Regions from separate parts of the Homo sapiens genome. Here all the other regions are linked to region 1. The links come from fine-mapping of genetic effects on gene expression. A gene starts in region 1. Each other region holds a variant in brackets. All regions are shown on one strand. Distances are between the middles of the regions. Region 1 holds the start of CNTN6 (contactin 6). Region 2 overlaps CNTN6 (contactin 6). Region 3 has its middle 40 kb from the start of CNTN6.

Region 1 (5,237 bases):
ACTTGTGAGTGATACATCAAGTAAAATTAGGACTAAGTTGACCATTGCATTATTCTATGCGTAATTTAATATTGACTATGACCAGAAACACTTATGTGGAACAGTGGGGACAAAAGACTAATCAAAGCAGATTCAAGATAAAATGAGAAAAGATGAATGGAGACAGTAAGTACAGAGAATTCCTTCAAGGTGTTTTACTATAAACAGAAGCAAGGAAATGCAGTAGTAGACAGAGGAAGACGGTATGTTAAAGGGGTGCTGATTTTTAAAATGGGCCAACTAGCAGCAAATCTCTTTGTTGTGATGCTACAGAAGGTAGGGAGAGTTGATGATTCCACAGAGAGAGACAAGTGGGTAGAATGGTCCCTTGAGTAGAAGACTATCTAAAGCACAGGTGGATGGCTTGGTCTAAGGAGGGAGCACGGTTCACCTCAAGTAACAAGATGAAGGGAGAGTCTGTGGTCACAGGGGCCAAGTATGTGACTAGATGTAGTGACAGGAGCTTATTGAAGTTTTCTTCTGGTTCTTATTCCTTTTTGGGTAAAATAGAAAGCAAAGCAATCAGCTGTCCTTGAATATGAGTCAGACTGTTGGAGATTTGAGTAAAGGGATATTCTTTAAGCTTGAATGAATTTCTTTCCACAAAAAAAAAATAAAGCCTACTACATAATGATTATTTTTCTTAAAACTCTGCAGAAAAAGTCATCTTGGCATTTTTACAAATAAAATATATTTTTATTCCTACAGAGCAAGAAATACTTCTATTTTTTTTAAAAAAAAAAAAAAGAGGCAATAAAAACAGATATTCTTTCTATAAAATTATTAGTCTAGTTTGCCTTCTTATGAATTGGGAGAAACAATAGGGTAGCCCATTTTGAGTTTACCTTGTGTTAGGAAGCATCATCTCCTTTCTAAAGCCTCTTATAATGTTGGTTAGACCCTGTGAAGAAATCCATAGGACATAGTCATAAAATGTAGTCATAGAAACCTTCTTGCTCATCAGATGAAAGTAAACTGAGGCCAAGAAATATCTTTTGACTTATTTCCATTTGATTTGGGGATTTCATTTTCTCAGTATCCACTTACTTTAAGATGCTAAGAGTATAATTTCTTTGTATGCCAACATGAAAATAAGTCCAAACTATCATTCTTTTCTCATGTTATAGTTATGTTTGTATGCACTAGAGTCTCAGTGTGCATGTATGTGTAATTCCTATTCCTTAGTTTTCATCCTTCAAGCAGTTAGTCCCTTCAAAACCCGATGACAAGACCCAAACATATTAAAAAGTTTAGTTGGAGGGCCCAGGGTGAAACACAAAAACAATTCTTCTTCTTACAGAGCTCTTAGGCAAACACATAGACACTTGTTCTCTGCCTCTGGAATTACAAATATGTTACTCGGAAAGCAGCAATACTCTTTTGGACTTGTTTGACTTCACTTTCTTTACCTGTCTTTAAGAAGCCTCATACACACATTTAAAAAATACAACTTATAAAGGTTTTAGTGATAGTGCATACAATCATTTGATTTTATTTCCCTTTTCTCTTCACCTTCACTAATAGGAGTTACTGGCATGCTTCAAAAAGCTTACATTTGAATACTGTCTAAATCAGTGCAGACCCTTGACCAGCTTAATCTTTGCTTGCAAATGACAATGCAGTGAAACCAGAGGAAGAAAAAAATTACTTCCTTTCCTGTTGGAAACCTAATAAGTAGTTAGTCTGACCCAGTTTTCAATAAGAGAGATTTTCTGATGACCCGACAGGAGTGACTATCTCCAGTCAAAGAAAGAGGAGGGTGAATTTAATCTTTCATGGCCCTGGAATGGCAGCTGCTCTCAGCTCTCTCTGATTCTGTGAAGGTTGATGAAGATAGAGCTGGCTTTCAATGTAGAAAGAATTTTCCTTTTGAATATTCCAAACGAGAGCTTTGCACATGTGCCTCAAGAACTGATTGTCTGGCTCCGACAGGAATGCAGCAGGAGAGGAGCGTATTTCATGCTTAAGACCAGAGAAGAGCCACGCAATACTCAGTGGATAAAAGGCTTGCAGTCCCAGCTGGGAAAAAGAGTCCCATTATCTCCCAGCTGCATAGACATTCCATACGGCTTGGTTCTGCCTGGACGCACAGCATGCCTGGCTGAGAGCTTGAAACAGAGTTCTGCAGAAAAACTGTAAAGATCCCGAGACATTTCCCTGGTAAGATCTGTAAGTACAAAATTGTGCTGTGTCTGCTGCAATGAGAATATTGCTGGGCAAGCTGCAGCTTTTCTTCCTTTCAATGTCTTTGTATTAGCATAACAGGTAAAAGCTGGGGTTGGGGGAGAAGTCACTGCTTTATTGATGCTGTGTTTCTATGATGCTGATGTTTAAAATGCATTTATTCCTTGTGTGGGAGAAATGTATTGAATCTGTATTCCGGGAGGTTAGGATCAAACCAGGGAAAGAAAGACTACAGGTATATTTCTCAGTGTTTCACTAGTCTTTGCTGCAGTAAAACTAATGGGCAAGACGGGATGACAGTGCTAATTCTGGGACTTTCAGATGGCTACACGCCCTTTCTGTAACGGCAGATGGGAAAATGTGATCGCTAAATGTTTTTTGTCTTTTTTTTTTTTTTAATCAAAGGGATGAGGGGTGGGGTTTGCAGTTCTCACCGGATGATTTAAAAGAATGGTTATAAAGTTTCCTAGGGGAGAATTTGGTAAGGGGAGCAAAGCAAGACTGGAGGTCATATGGGCTCACCAAATTTTGTCTGGCATTTTGCTTTATACCCAGCTTCTAGATAACAGCCTCTGGAGTTTCCTTTACCATTTACACCAGTTAAGTTGTCAGTATTAAGGTTCTTATAATACTTTATGAAAACTTTCAGAAGTTGATGACTTGGGAACAAAACTTTTAAGAGCTCTGAGATTAGCCACGTATAACCCATTATGTTAATGGGATACTGTAACATTGGGGTTTGGGGGGAAAATTGGAATTCATAGTTTTTGCTTCTCCAAATGAAAACTACTTATGTTTAAATAATCAGCATCCTGACTATGTCCTCTGAGAAACATTCACAGAATGACTAAATAGAAGTTATACTGAGAAAAAATAGAGTGAACAGTAGAATCACACAGAATCAATTTGGAAAATGAGGTATTCATAATTTTATCTACAGTGGCAATGTTTTCTGAAGATGTCTGTAAAAGAAGAAGCATATGCTGAATATTGAATTGCTTGTTTTGAGCAATTTTCATTTATCTGATGGGTTTATCATCTTTTTATTTTTGTTGTTGAAGGTTTCACCAATTTATGTGCATTGTATTTTATAAGGAAAGAAATGTTTAAGCAGACTCTTTTTCCCTCCTCCTTCACACACATGTGTAAACATACGCATGTTCACAAAACAAACATAAACATACAAAAATACTTACACAATTTGTGTAAAAAAAAAGAAATACAGAAGCATTTCATCTTTGATGTTTCAGTGGGGTTTCTTTTTCTTTTTTTAAGCAATAATCATGGCTGTGCAGTCCAAAGATTTCAAATATATAAATGTGGAAACTTTTATATAAAGCTTTATGTGAGGTTATATAAATGCATAACTTATCACATCTTAGCAAAAAAGTCAATCATTTATAAATGACTTCATTGCATTACTTCCTTTGAATATTTGTAGTGAAGGACCAGAATTTTTTTTTAGAATTTTTATGTAGCTTTCCTTAATGAAAACAAATTCACTTGTTTACTTAGAAAAGGATCACATATTTTCTCTGAGTTTAGAACCCCCTCTAAAAAAAATCAATTATGTTGTGAAAAGGATGTGTGGTATATTAAATTGATTGCATACTTCTGGGTTTTTTTTTTAGTAAGTAAAAATGCTCAGTAGTATAATAGTAAATTTGTACCTTTTAAATTCTTTTATGTGAGGAGAAGGAATACAAAATATTTGCTTATTTATTCACTGTTTATTTTAATAACATATTAATTGGAATGCAGAAGTATAAGTTCTACCTATTAAAAATGACTCAAACTATACATAAAAGTTCAAAAGGGAAAACCCATCACCTGTAAATAACAATCATGAAATTTGGCGACTATCATTGGAGACATACTGGTGCCTAAATTCAGATAAGATGAGAGATAAATACTTTTGTAAGAATGGTTTCTTACTATACACCTTTTAAAAAATAAATAATAAATATTTAGATAATATAGTCAATAATAGATACTCTTCTGTAAGAATGAGATCTTATCCTACACTTAAAAAAAAACAGAAATATTGGCCGCGCGCGGTGGTTCACACCTATAATCCCAGCACTTTGGGAGGCCGAGGCGGGCGGATCACGAGGTCAAGAGATTGAGACCATCCTGGCCAACATGGTGAAACCCCATTTCTACTAAAAATACAAAAATTAGCTGGGCGTTTTGGCGTGTGCCTGTAGTCACAGCTACTCAGGAAGCTGAGGCAGGAGAATCACTTGACCCCGGGAGGCGGAGCTTGCAGTGAGCAGAGATCGCGCCATTGCCCTCCAGCCTGGGTGACAGAGTGAAACTCCATCTCAAACAAACAAACAAACAAACAGAAAACAGAAAACAGAAACATTGAGTTTAATTTTTGATTTTAGATTTTAATTAAACTGAAAAAAGAGAAGTTGAAACAACATTGAAGAAATTGTTAAATTTCATGTATAGATTTCTCTCCAATGGAGATATTATGTCCAGAATAATACCCTTACAGTTAAGACCAAAAATTTTGAAAATAGAAATAGTTTGAAGATTTTTTTGGATGCACGTTTAAATAGTAAACAAACTTTTATAACCCTTGTTATGATAGTTAAATGCATTTGCAATGTGACTTGTCATCAACTCCACCCATACCACCTCAATTTAAACTACATCAGTTTTACATTACTGAGTACATACATTCTGGCTGAATTCCCATGGTCTCAGTTTAAACTTATTTCAAATTTGTAAGGAATTATCCTTTATCAACAGGCTTTTACTACCCAATTCACCATTTCTGTGTTCTTTATTTTCAATTATTTTTTGGGTTGTTAGATTTCAGTAAGTAGTACCTCTCCACCAAAGAAATAGTCATAGGTGCTATATTTTCTATGAGTTTGCATCTTGAACATGTATTTCTTTTGCCTTAGACATGCAAGATACGTTATCTTTCTTGGATCAAGCTTAATTTTTTCTTTTGGAAATGTGTAAATGTTTAAACATTTTTGGAGACCCTTCCTGTACTG
Region 2 (5,237 bases), 57 kb after region 1:
TTCTGAGCTTATTCTAAATTTTTATGAGTTTAGGAGTTTTTATGAACCTCTTATTAGATTTCTCTTTTGGGCTAAAGGCCAAACTAACATTTTATCTTGATTTCATTTATCACTGCATAGCTTAAATGTCAAAATAAATTAGAGAAAATTATGATGCAACCCCCTTAGGAAAAGCAAGTCTCGTACCTGAAAGATAACACTGCTAGAAATTGATTTCTTGCAGAAATTTTGCAGCACAATATTAATTTTTCTCTTGTGATATTAGGACAAATAATGTTTTCTAATATTTGAGGTGTGAATTGAAATTAAGAAAATATGAGCTGACATTACTGGAACTCGCAGAACAAATGTATGTGTAGAAAGCATCCATTTAGGTTGCTTTATTTTGGATAATAATATTAATATTAAATTGAATTAATATGCAACAAAAATATGCTTATTAAAATATTCGTGTTTGTACGTTTTTCATTTCATGACAATTTTGTCTTTTTCAGACTCTTGAGATACTGACTGGAAGATAGACTGTTTTGTTCCACCTGATTGTATGGGAGAAATTTTTGACCTTAGAAAGTGGAAATGAGGTTGCTATGGAAACTGGTAATTCTGCTGCCACTCATAAACTCTTCTGCAGGTAAAGTGTTCTATTATTATAAGTTTTGATTGATAAATATATTGGCATTGTATTTCTTTCTATGGGTGAAGCAATTTTCAAAATGCACAATTTGTATGTTATTTGAATGACTAAGTGATAATGTTTTGAAGGTAACTTCTATGACTCAGACAGGGAAAGTTTAATCCTTAAAAATGTATCAAATGCCAGTTTTAAATGGAAACTAACATTATTACATTTATAAATTGGCAAATATGACATTTTTATACAATGTAATTATGTAATATTTAATTATATAATATACTATGACATTTTAATAAAAGAATGTAATTAAATATTTTTATCACCAATAAACAGTGAATAATTATTCTTATTTTCATTATAGTGAAGTCTTTAAAAAATTAAAATTAAAATACATATTTCTCTCATGTTTAGAAATTGATATGGCAAAAAAATCAAAGCTATATTCATTTAGAAGAAAAGATGATATAGAATGTTACCTCAGAACTAGAAATAACCTTAGATATATTTTCTTTTTAATTATTTTAAAAGAATAGACAAGAACATGTTCTTTTATTCAACTTGAACATATTAATATCTGTGTATCAGTTAACTTTTGCTTTGTAATAAGCCACGCCAAATGTGAGTGTAATAAAATATCAAATAATCATGTATTTAGTTGACAAATCTGTGGGTTAACAACTTACGATGGGCTCAAATGGGTCTTCTTTTGGTTTTTGCCTGGGTGCACTGCAACTTCGATGAGCTGAGTCATCTGAGACATGACTAGTCTAGAACATTCGTAACTGAGACAACTGTGCTGCCATGGCTGTGGTCCAAATGTTACCCTCTGTGAGTCTGGGTTCTTTTACATGGTGGCTGCTCAGGGTTCCAAGAAAACAAAAGACAGAAGAATGCAGCATTTCTTGATGCCAACGCTTGGAACTGCTACATTGCCATTTCTGTGAGTTATTTTGACAATTATAAGTCACAAGACAAGTTCAGCTTTAATAGATGTGGAATGACACTACATCTCTTGATAGAAAAGCTGCAAAATTATACCATAAAAAGGCCATAGAAATAATAAAGGCAATAATCGTGGCTGTTTTTGTAAACAACCAACCATAGTCTGTTACAATCATAGAGTTCATAATTACTGAGCTTAATTGTCAAGATTAATTGTTGAGCTTACCTACATGAGTTGTTACAGAGCATGGACATTGATTAGATCATATGATTATCAAAGAAGCCTCTCTTCTACCATACCATGCTTCTTCCCCCCGACTATGTGTTGATAGGTACTAGTGAAGTTTCACGTACTTATAACAAAGCAGTAATACATTGACAGACATGCAGGAATAAA[C/CATA]ATAATTTAAAAGGCAGAAACACAGTAATTGTAAAGGACATATATTTTATAGCAATCCTGAGAAATAGATATGCTGATCTTAAAATGAATGAGAATGCTAAAATATGCAGAAATCAAACAGGAGAATCAGAAAACCATACAAATAAAAGCAATTTTACCACTAGCAAAGCTAGCAGCTAGAAGTGCCATAGTTATATTTACTCAAAGTGATTACAGTATTTTGATTGGTGACACCTCTAAGTCTCTGTAACAAAGATTTGGGGTTAAATAATAGTGTATTCTTTTTTTGGTAATAGATTAAGAAAAGACAGAGAAAACTCATCAAGGTGCCCCCAAATCATATATGTGTGAATAAGAATTATATTCCTACCCTTAAGTTTCATCTTCCTGTCAAAATTCAACATTAACATTTTGCCCTTTAAATATGTATATTGAATTAGCATAGGATCTCTAAAAGACCTTTTGTGTTAAATTAAAATGAATTATTAGTCTCAGAACACGTATCAAATCTGAGAAATACTCCAGCTCTTATATTAACTTTTATTTATACAAACTGGATGTGATTCAACATGTCCTGTTGCTTTATTCTGATGGGAGAAATCATCATATACCCTTGGTGCACAATTTCATTGTGAAAGAACAGATTGGATCTATTAAGTAGCCATAGCTACTTAAATGAGATAATCTAAGCTAAACATTGCTCCAGAGGTAAGGATGTTGATAATGACATACACAAGACAACACTGCTTTAAATCTGTTTGTTTTGTTAGACGTTTCATGGTGTGTCTCCCTATTCGCAGATACTATTTTAGTTTAGAAAATTAGATTGTCTGATGATAGAGTTCTGTGACTATGCATAGTGATAATATCTTGTTTTTCCAAAACATACTTTTTATTCATTCTGAAATGCCAGCAAATCTTTCACAATTACTTACTTTTTCCTTGCTATTTGAATTATTATAATTTTTCTAACAGGTTGATACTTTAAATCTCCCTAGACTCTAAATTAAAACTTAAAATTTTTTGACAACCTCTCCCCTCATTTTCTAAAAATTAACTACAACTTCTAGTGCTTTTACTATAGTCATGGCCTCATAGGCCTTTACAATGAAACTTAATCCATACAGTCATACATGATTGATTCTGGGACACTTTTAAAGTTTTGAGTACTTAAAAGTTTAATTGTTCTATTTTAGTATTTTTAAAATATTAGAAGAAAATGAAGGCCCATTTAATTAGGAAATACAGTTAATAATTATATACTTTTTAACTGTTTCATTGATATGCATGACAGGCTAAATAATGGCCCCAAAAGATATCTAGGTCCTAATACCTGGAACCTGTGAGTGCTACTTGATACAGTAAAGTGGATTTTGCAGATGTGATTAAGTTAAAGATCTTCAGATGGGGAGATTAAAATAGCCCTGGACTATCCAGATTGTAAGAAGGAGGCAGAGTTAGACCTGACAGAGGGGAAGGCAATGAGGCAGCAGAGCAGAGGGAGACGTGAAGATGCTGCACTGCTAGACTTCAGGACTGAGGAAGGGATCATGAGCCATGGGGTGTGATGAAGGAAGCTCTAGATGCTGGGAAAGGCAGGGGGACAGATTCTCCCCTCTATCTGTGGACTGAGCATGGCTCTGCCTGCACCTTTTTTCAGCCCCGTGAATCCCATTTTGGACTTCTGACCTCCAGGACTCTAAGAAAATAAATATGTACTGTTTTAAGCCATAACATTTTTGGTAACTTTTATAGAAGTCATAAGAAACTGAAGTTTCTTCCTCACTATGCTTTAAGCTTCCAGATGGCAGGGACTATATCTTGCTGGTACTTGGTAGGGATTCAGTAAATATTTGTTAAATGAATGAATTAATTAATTACCAAAAGTTAATGTTGTTTGTTCTATTTATGTTATCACAGTAGAATAAATTTAGTCATATAATATCCTCTGGGGAACTGTTAGTCTGGTTCATTCCTTTATGGTTGCCAGTGTGTATTAAAGTTACAGTCATAAGTTTCTAGAAATAGAATTGTAATAACGTTTTAAAAGTTTTAAATCATGCCGTATTTGAAACTCTGTGAGGGCAGGAAATTTCATCTGGTTTATGCTTTACTGATTCTCCATCCCCTAATACACAGATTCTAAATATTTGCTAAATGAATAAAAGAAAGCAGCTTCATTCACTTCAACAAATATAGAAATATATTAGAAACTATGATGTGCCAGGCAAGGAGCTTGATGTTGACCTTCAACAATAGGTCCATAGTCCCTGCCCTCTTCAACCTGACAGTCTAAACAGGGAAACCAGCAAGTAAGTCCACTTAAACTGAGATTCTGCCCCTTGTGACAAAAAAGTTCTTGACTAATACAGCTTTAAAAATTTGGTTTTGAGGTTGAGTTAGTAACAGAACTCTGCTGGGATAAATGCTTATTCACTAATGAAAATGAGGAAAAGAGCAAATAAAAGAATTTTAAGAAGTCACAATAATTCCTGGAAGGAAAAAAAAATCAAGAGGTTTAATATAGACTAAGAACGTTTATTCTCAGCCCTGAGTTACTGAAAAATCTACATTTCTTAAAGTAGAAAAAATATGTTAATGAGATAATTTGGATAACCAAATTAATAAACGGAGAAAAACTTATAACTGTAAGTCTACTTTTTGTCTTTGTAGACAATGCACAGATTGTTTTCATGAGGAAATATTTTATTTATTTATATATTTGTTTGTTTGTTTGTTTGTTTGTTTTTTGAGATGGCGTCTCCCTGTGTTGCCCAGGCTGGAGTGCAGTGGCGTGATATCAGCTCACTGCAACCTCCACCTCCTGGGTTCATACAATTCTCCTGCCTCAGCCTCTTGAGTAGCTCAGATTACAGGCACGCACCACCATGCTGGGCTAATTTTTTGTATTTTAGTAGAGACAGGGTTTCACCATGTTGCCCAGGCTGGTCTCAAACTCCTGAGCTCAGGCAATCCACCCACCTCAGCCTCCCAAAGTGCTAGGATTACAGGCATGAGACATCACAACCGGTCCAGAAATATTTTATTTTTTAATAAATACTGAACAATGTCAGTAATGGGTAGAAGCTGAAAAACCACGTAGGGTCAAATTTTGTTGACCCTAGAATGTCACCTGCCTAAGAAACCCAAGATTAACTGATGTGATTAACTGTCACATTTTCCCACAGTGAAAAATTCTCAGAATGCACAAGATGATTCTATTTTATTAAATCTTTCACCTTACCATGGCTTTTATGTACAATT
Region 3 (5,237 bases), 41 kb before region 1:
TAGTTTAAATTATTTACAGAGAAGATAGTGTCACATTAGTACACTAAATTGAAATAGAATTGTATTCCACTGCCTTGGCTTCAAATGACTTAGTGTGCTTGAAATGATTACCTGTATATGGATGGCTAAATAGAGAAATATTAGGTGTTTAGTATGTTGTGAACTTCTTCCTGGCCTATTTATTGCCTAAGTGGCACTTAAGAAAATTAGACAAAATTTTGCACTAAGCCTGATGCATAATCAATCTATTCAATAATTCCCACTATGCCTTGACCTTCATAAGGTCACTCCACTGTTGACAAGTCTTGTCTGTAACTTAAAATTACAGACAGCTGGGTAAGCCCATCGAGTGTCATGGACACATCTATTTGGGCACTTCTTCAATACTTTGACTTTGAAAAACTTTCAATTCACCAACTGGTATCAGTGGTCTAAAGAGGGTCACTTCTTGATTATTTGACAGCTCCTGGAAATCTCTGTGTTTTTTTTTTGCTTCTCTCTAAGAATAATTATAGATATAAAGGCTTGGAATTCATTTTAAACCTGTGATAGTGTGACTACAGTTCAACATAAAGATTGATAATGTAGTGTCTGTTATGACTCATATCTTAGCCAGTTTTTGTTCCCCAATGTCAGTTTTCATGTTATACACATTTCCTTTTAGTTGAGTATGAAAAGTAGAGCTAGCAACATATATTTGGAGTTTTTGAGTTTGTAGGCATCATTACAATTGTAATAATTTTATACTCACTGAGAGGGCCACAGTTATGTTTTAGGTATATTGTAATTGCCTATGATTCCTAGCTTTGGTTGGCACTGCTATTTGGACATTAGTTGTTGATCATCAACCTATTCACAAATTGTTATTCAACATAATGGAATATTCTGAACAAGAAATTTTGCAATGATTGTGAAAAGTTCATACATTTTGGCTGTGTTGACCATGGGCTTCAGACTTGTTTCCAAGAAGCATCAAAATAATTAAAACTAAATTTCAGGCACAATAAATAGCCATGTCAACTTCCATATCTACATGATAAAGTGAGAACGGTTTGGGAGTATACAGCTGGGTGCATAAACTTACAAGGGAGTTTCTTTGAAGAAAACAATATTTTTCTCTTACAAGAATTAATTCAAATGCTGCTGGTTTGTGGTGCTAAAAAAATGTTTCTAGCTACAGTGTTTTAAATTCCCCTGAAGAAAACAAAATGTTTTATGAATATTAGGATTCAGTTTTAGACTTTCTTACATTTGGAAACAGGGCTACTTGTTGGAGGGGTTCTCATTTTACTTCACAGTGAGTGAGTGGCTCCAGCTGACTTCTTGGGTGCTTTGTTGAATTGGTGGAATAGGTAATAGTGGTGAATGACTAAACATAGCAGACATAACCATTAGTAACTCATAGTGACTTGGAAGACACCTCAAGGGAAACAGCGTTCAGCCCTTTCATCTTTTGTAGCTAGGCCTTCGGTCTTTCAGTTGCAAGAAACTTAAATTCAACTCAAACTAACTCAAAGAAAAGAGAAATTAATTGACCCATATAGTCAAGGAGGGATTTAGGAGTATTTACCGAATAGAATTTTTAAAAAACAAACAGCAGATGAATTAAATATTTAGAACCCACAGTTTAACCGTGCTGGGATTTTCTTTGACCTTCTCTTGCTTCTGTTTCTTGCTGTGTGTTGGCTCAATTTCCTTCTAGTGATCATAAGCTTTAAAACAACCACATTTTAGCAACTTCAGTGGGAAAGCACATGATATTTGTAAATACTTATGGATTAATATCAAGCAGAGAGTTGGATTTATCCATCCTTTGAGCCAACCACTATTGTCTGGGAAATAGGTTATAATATTTGCTAACTCCTATTGCTCATCGCTATGACCAGAGGGCTAGTGCAAACTACAGGTGGAAGAATATAAAAGACATTCTTTTGTAAAAACAGGAAAAAAATAACACTGCCTAGCACGTCCACTGCACCACTTCTTGTGCAAACACCTGTATAACATCCTTACAGGTACTCCTCAGCATTAACTGGGTAAAATGTAGGATATGATGAAAAGTTTATTAGACCTGGCATCTATCTCATCTCTGTTTCTAGCCAGTTTTGTGGTGATGAAAAAGACATTTTGCAGCTCTGAACTTTATTTCTTCATCCATAAATTTGTTGCTCTATCATTTTCAATCTCTGTGAATAGGAATTACTGACTGACAATCTCATTCTGTTGTTGTAGAACTCAGATCAAGCTCCATTGAGCTAAATGTTGTCTTTCTTGCATTATAATACAGAAATTAAGAGTGAACTCTTATATCAGATAACCCTTAGTTTGAATCCTAGTATGTGGTACTCAGCAATTCACTCAAACTCTCTATGTCTCAGTTTCTTCATTGAAAGGATTTAATTAGAAGATGTATATAAAGTGTTGGCAAAATGCCTAGCACATATAAACACTGGATAAATATTAGTCATTGCTCTTATTAGTATTATTGTTTTCATTATTATTTTTAACTTACAACAACTGGAGTTTGGCTTGTCAAGAGTCGTGCAGAATTAAAGAGTCTGTCTTTCATGGGGACAAATCTTTCTTTCCCTCCTGCTTCACCATAGTTTACAATTCTTTAGAGAAGAGGCGCTTTGGATACTTCCCCACATAATACAGACGATATCTTTCATTTCTAATTGCCCAGGATCAAAGACTAGTTCCACATTAACTAAACGGCCTTACCATTTTAATGTGT[T/G]TTGAATCATTTACAATCCAGAGATATGGAAACATAGCAAAATTTTAGAGTAATGGTAAAAAGCACCTGGGAACATGGTGTAGGATGGTGTAGGAGCAGGTAATTGAGCACAGACAGTTCATTTAAATGCCTAGATCATGTAAAATTATTTACTTGGAACTGGCCCAAGTAATTTGCAATAAATGACCTTATTTTTTGCATGTTGAAAACTGCTTTTTTTTTTTGCTTGAGACAAAATCTCCCTCTGTCGCCCAGGGTGGGGTGGAGTGGCACGATTTCGGCTCACTGCAACCTCCACCTCCTGAGTTCAAAGGATTCTCCTGCCTCAGCCTCCTGAGTAGCTGGAATTACAGACACCTGCCGCCATTCCCACCTTTTTTTTTTTTTGTTTTTTTGTTTTTTTGTTTTTTTTTTTGGTATTTTTACTAGAGATGAGATTTCACCATGTTGGCCAGGCTGGTCTCAAACTCCTGACCTCAAGTGATCCACCTGCCTTGGCTTCCCAAAGTGCTGGGACTACAGACGCGAGGCACCACGCCCAGCTAAAAACTGCTTTTGATCATTAATTTTTTGACATGTGCTATTATCTGGAAGAAAGTAATAACAGGTGAAAAAATAATTGTTACTTTAAATGATGTCTTAGGGACAGCCAAGACATACCATTAGCTAGGGCAAAAATTTATTCAAACTACTTCAGAATTATGTAGACAGTTTTTTTGTTTGTTTGTTTGTTTGTTTTTTAATGGGATGGGCATTTTTGATCAAATGTGCAAAATAGCTTAGCGTCATTTTTTATGATTTTTAATTTTCTGTCTTAAACTTATATACTTTTTTGAACAGTGGTATTTTAAATTAATATTAATGTGGAAAATTCAGAGCATTCTTGTTTCATCATCTTGACAACCAGGTTAGACTGGTAAGGTGGGAATTATAATGATTATCTTCATTTTACTAAAACAATTTTCCCAAGGTTACACAGCTAGTCTATGGCCAACACAGACTTGCAGACATACGTATTATAACCAAAAGAAAGTGTTCTTATTAATGGAAAATAGGGTAAGGTATTTGTTCTGTTTTTCTAATGTTGCTTTAGATTCTTTAGACAAATCATCTGTGCTAAGGTTGCTTATAAAAGCATCTGAAGATCAATGGAATTAAGTTGAGACAATTCTGAAATGAAAATTCAAGTGATGAAATTCCCCAGAGTTCAATTATTTGAGTTAAAAGTGTTTGTAATAACAGATCTTGGTACATAGTTGGCACATTTCTCCGTTGTGTTTTTCCTCTTTCTATCACCTTTCAGTTTCTATTACAACACTCTTAGGGAGTTTACTAATAAATTAATTATTGGAAAGCATATATTGCCTGAAGGTTTATGTACCAGTAGCCATTAGCCACAATATGCCTAGAATAGATATGTCATTTCCCGGTTGAAATATCGATCCAGGAGAACAAATGAACAAATTATCAATTTGGACATGCCAAGAAAAAAAAATTGAATATGTAGCCATGTTTATTTGAGACATTTTACTCCATAAAGCATGTTTAATAAAAAGAATGAGTTCATGCAAGAATTGCAAACAGCCAGTCAGAGCCATGTGATGGTACTGGAAGTTGTTTTACAAATGTATGTTCCAGTTCAGGAGCATCCTCTCTTAGTAAAAACTTCCTTTTAATAGCAGCATCTTAGGCACTTGATCCACAGAAGGAAGTAATTAAATTTAATACATGCAACACTCATTTTGAGGACACCCTCGATTTAAAGTAGCGGGGGGCATAATTAAGTCTAATAGAAATCATGGCTTGAGAATGAAGATACACTATCAAGCAAACACAGACCAAGTCTACACAGAACCAATTACCTGGTTAATTAGGGCTACAAGCTGTGTTTATTTCATGTTATTCAACCAAAGCAAAGCTTGAGGGTTGATATTGTTTGTTTATTTATTTAGTTGGAATTACATTTATAATTGGAATTAAATGAATATAAACCACAATATTAGATGAGCTTAATGCTCATATATAGCCACCCAAAAAGAAAAACAAAGAAGTGGAATCATTAACTAAGTGTTTTTAACTGAAAGAGTAGATTTGGAAGCATATATATACATAGCCTAAACCATCAGAAAAAAAAAACTATATTCCCCTTTCCACTCTTTATCATAAGTATAACTTCAATTAAAGGAAATAACTTTGATTTATAGTTAGACCACAACATAGTATCTGTTGTCCTGTCTGTTATAGATCAAGTCAGCTTGGTGTAATGGAAACAACTCTGGCTTAGGAGTTAAGAGTTCGTGGTTTTTATCATTTCAATTCATTTATACTTCTGTTTGTCAGACATACGTTGACCCTACAGTGTGGTAGTCAGCAGAGGGAAAGATGGGGAAAATAACTAAACCAACAAGATCTAATTCTTACCATTGAGGAGCTTGTAGAATACTGTTAGAAGTAAACATTTGAGAATAATTATGGTAAGATGTATTTAATAGTAGAATGG

The links. PIP is the estimated chance that this variant, and not a neighbour inherited with it, causes the effect.
Region 2: its variant is the best candidate, but not a certain one, in a credible set for the expression of CNTN6 in testis (GTEx, PIP 0.64).
Region 3: its variant is the best candidate, but not a certain one, in a credible set for the expression of CNTN6 in testis (GTEx, PIP 0.67).

The regions. Positions count from the first base shown.
Region 1 is chr3:1,090,922-1,096,158 of GRCh38, forward strand. It overlaps CNTN6 (contactin 6), which reads left to right and starts at 2,103. Exons shown (of 23, transcript NM_001289080.2): 1 at 2,103-2,199.
Region 2 is chr3:1,147,433-1,152,669 of GRCh38, forward strand. It overlaps CNTN6 (contactin 6), which reads left to right. Exons shown (of 23, transcript NM_001289080.2): 2 at 495-631. The coding sequence starts at 577. Among named protein-coding and RNA genes, the nearest start is that of CNTN6, 57 kb to the left of the region's middle. The variant C/CATA (reference allele first, on the strand shown) is at 1,974.
Region 3 is chr3:1,050,183-1,055,419 of GRCh38, forward strand. No RefSeq gene overlaps it. Among named protein-coding and RNA genes, the nearest start is that of CNTN6, 40 kb to the right of the region's middle. The variant T/G (reference allele first, on the strand shown) is at 2,738.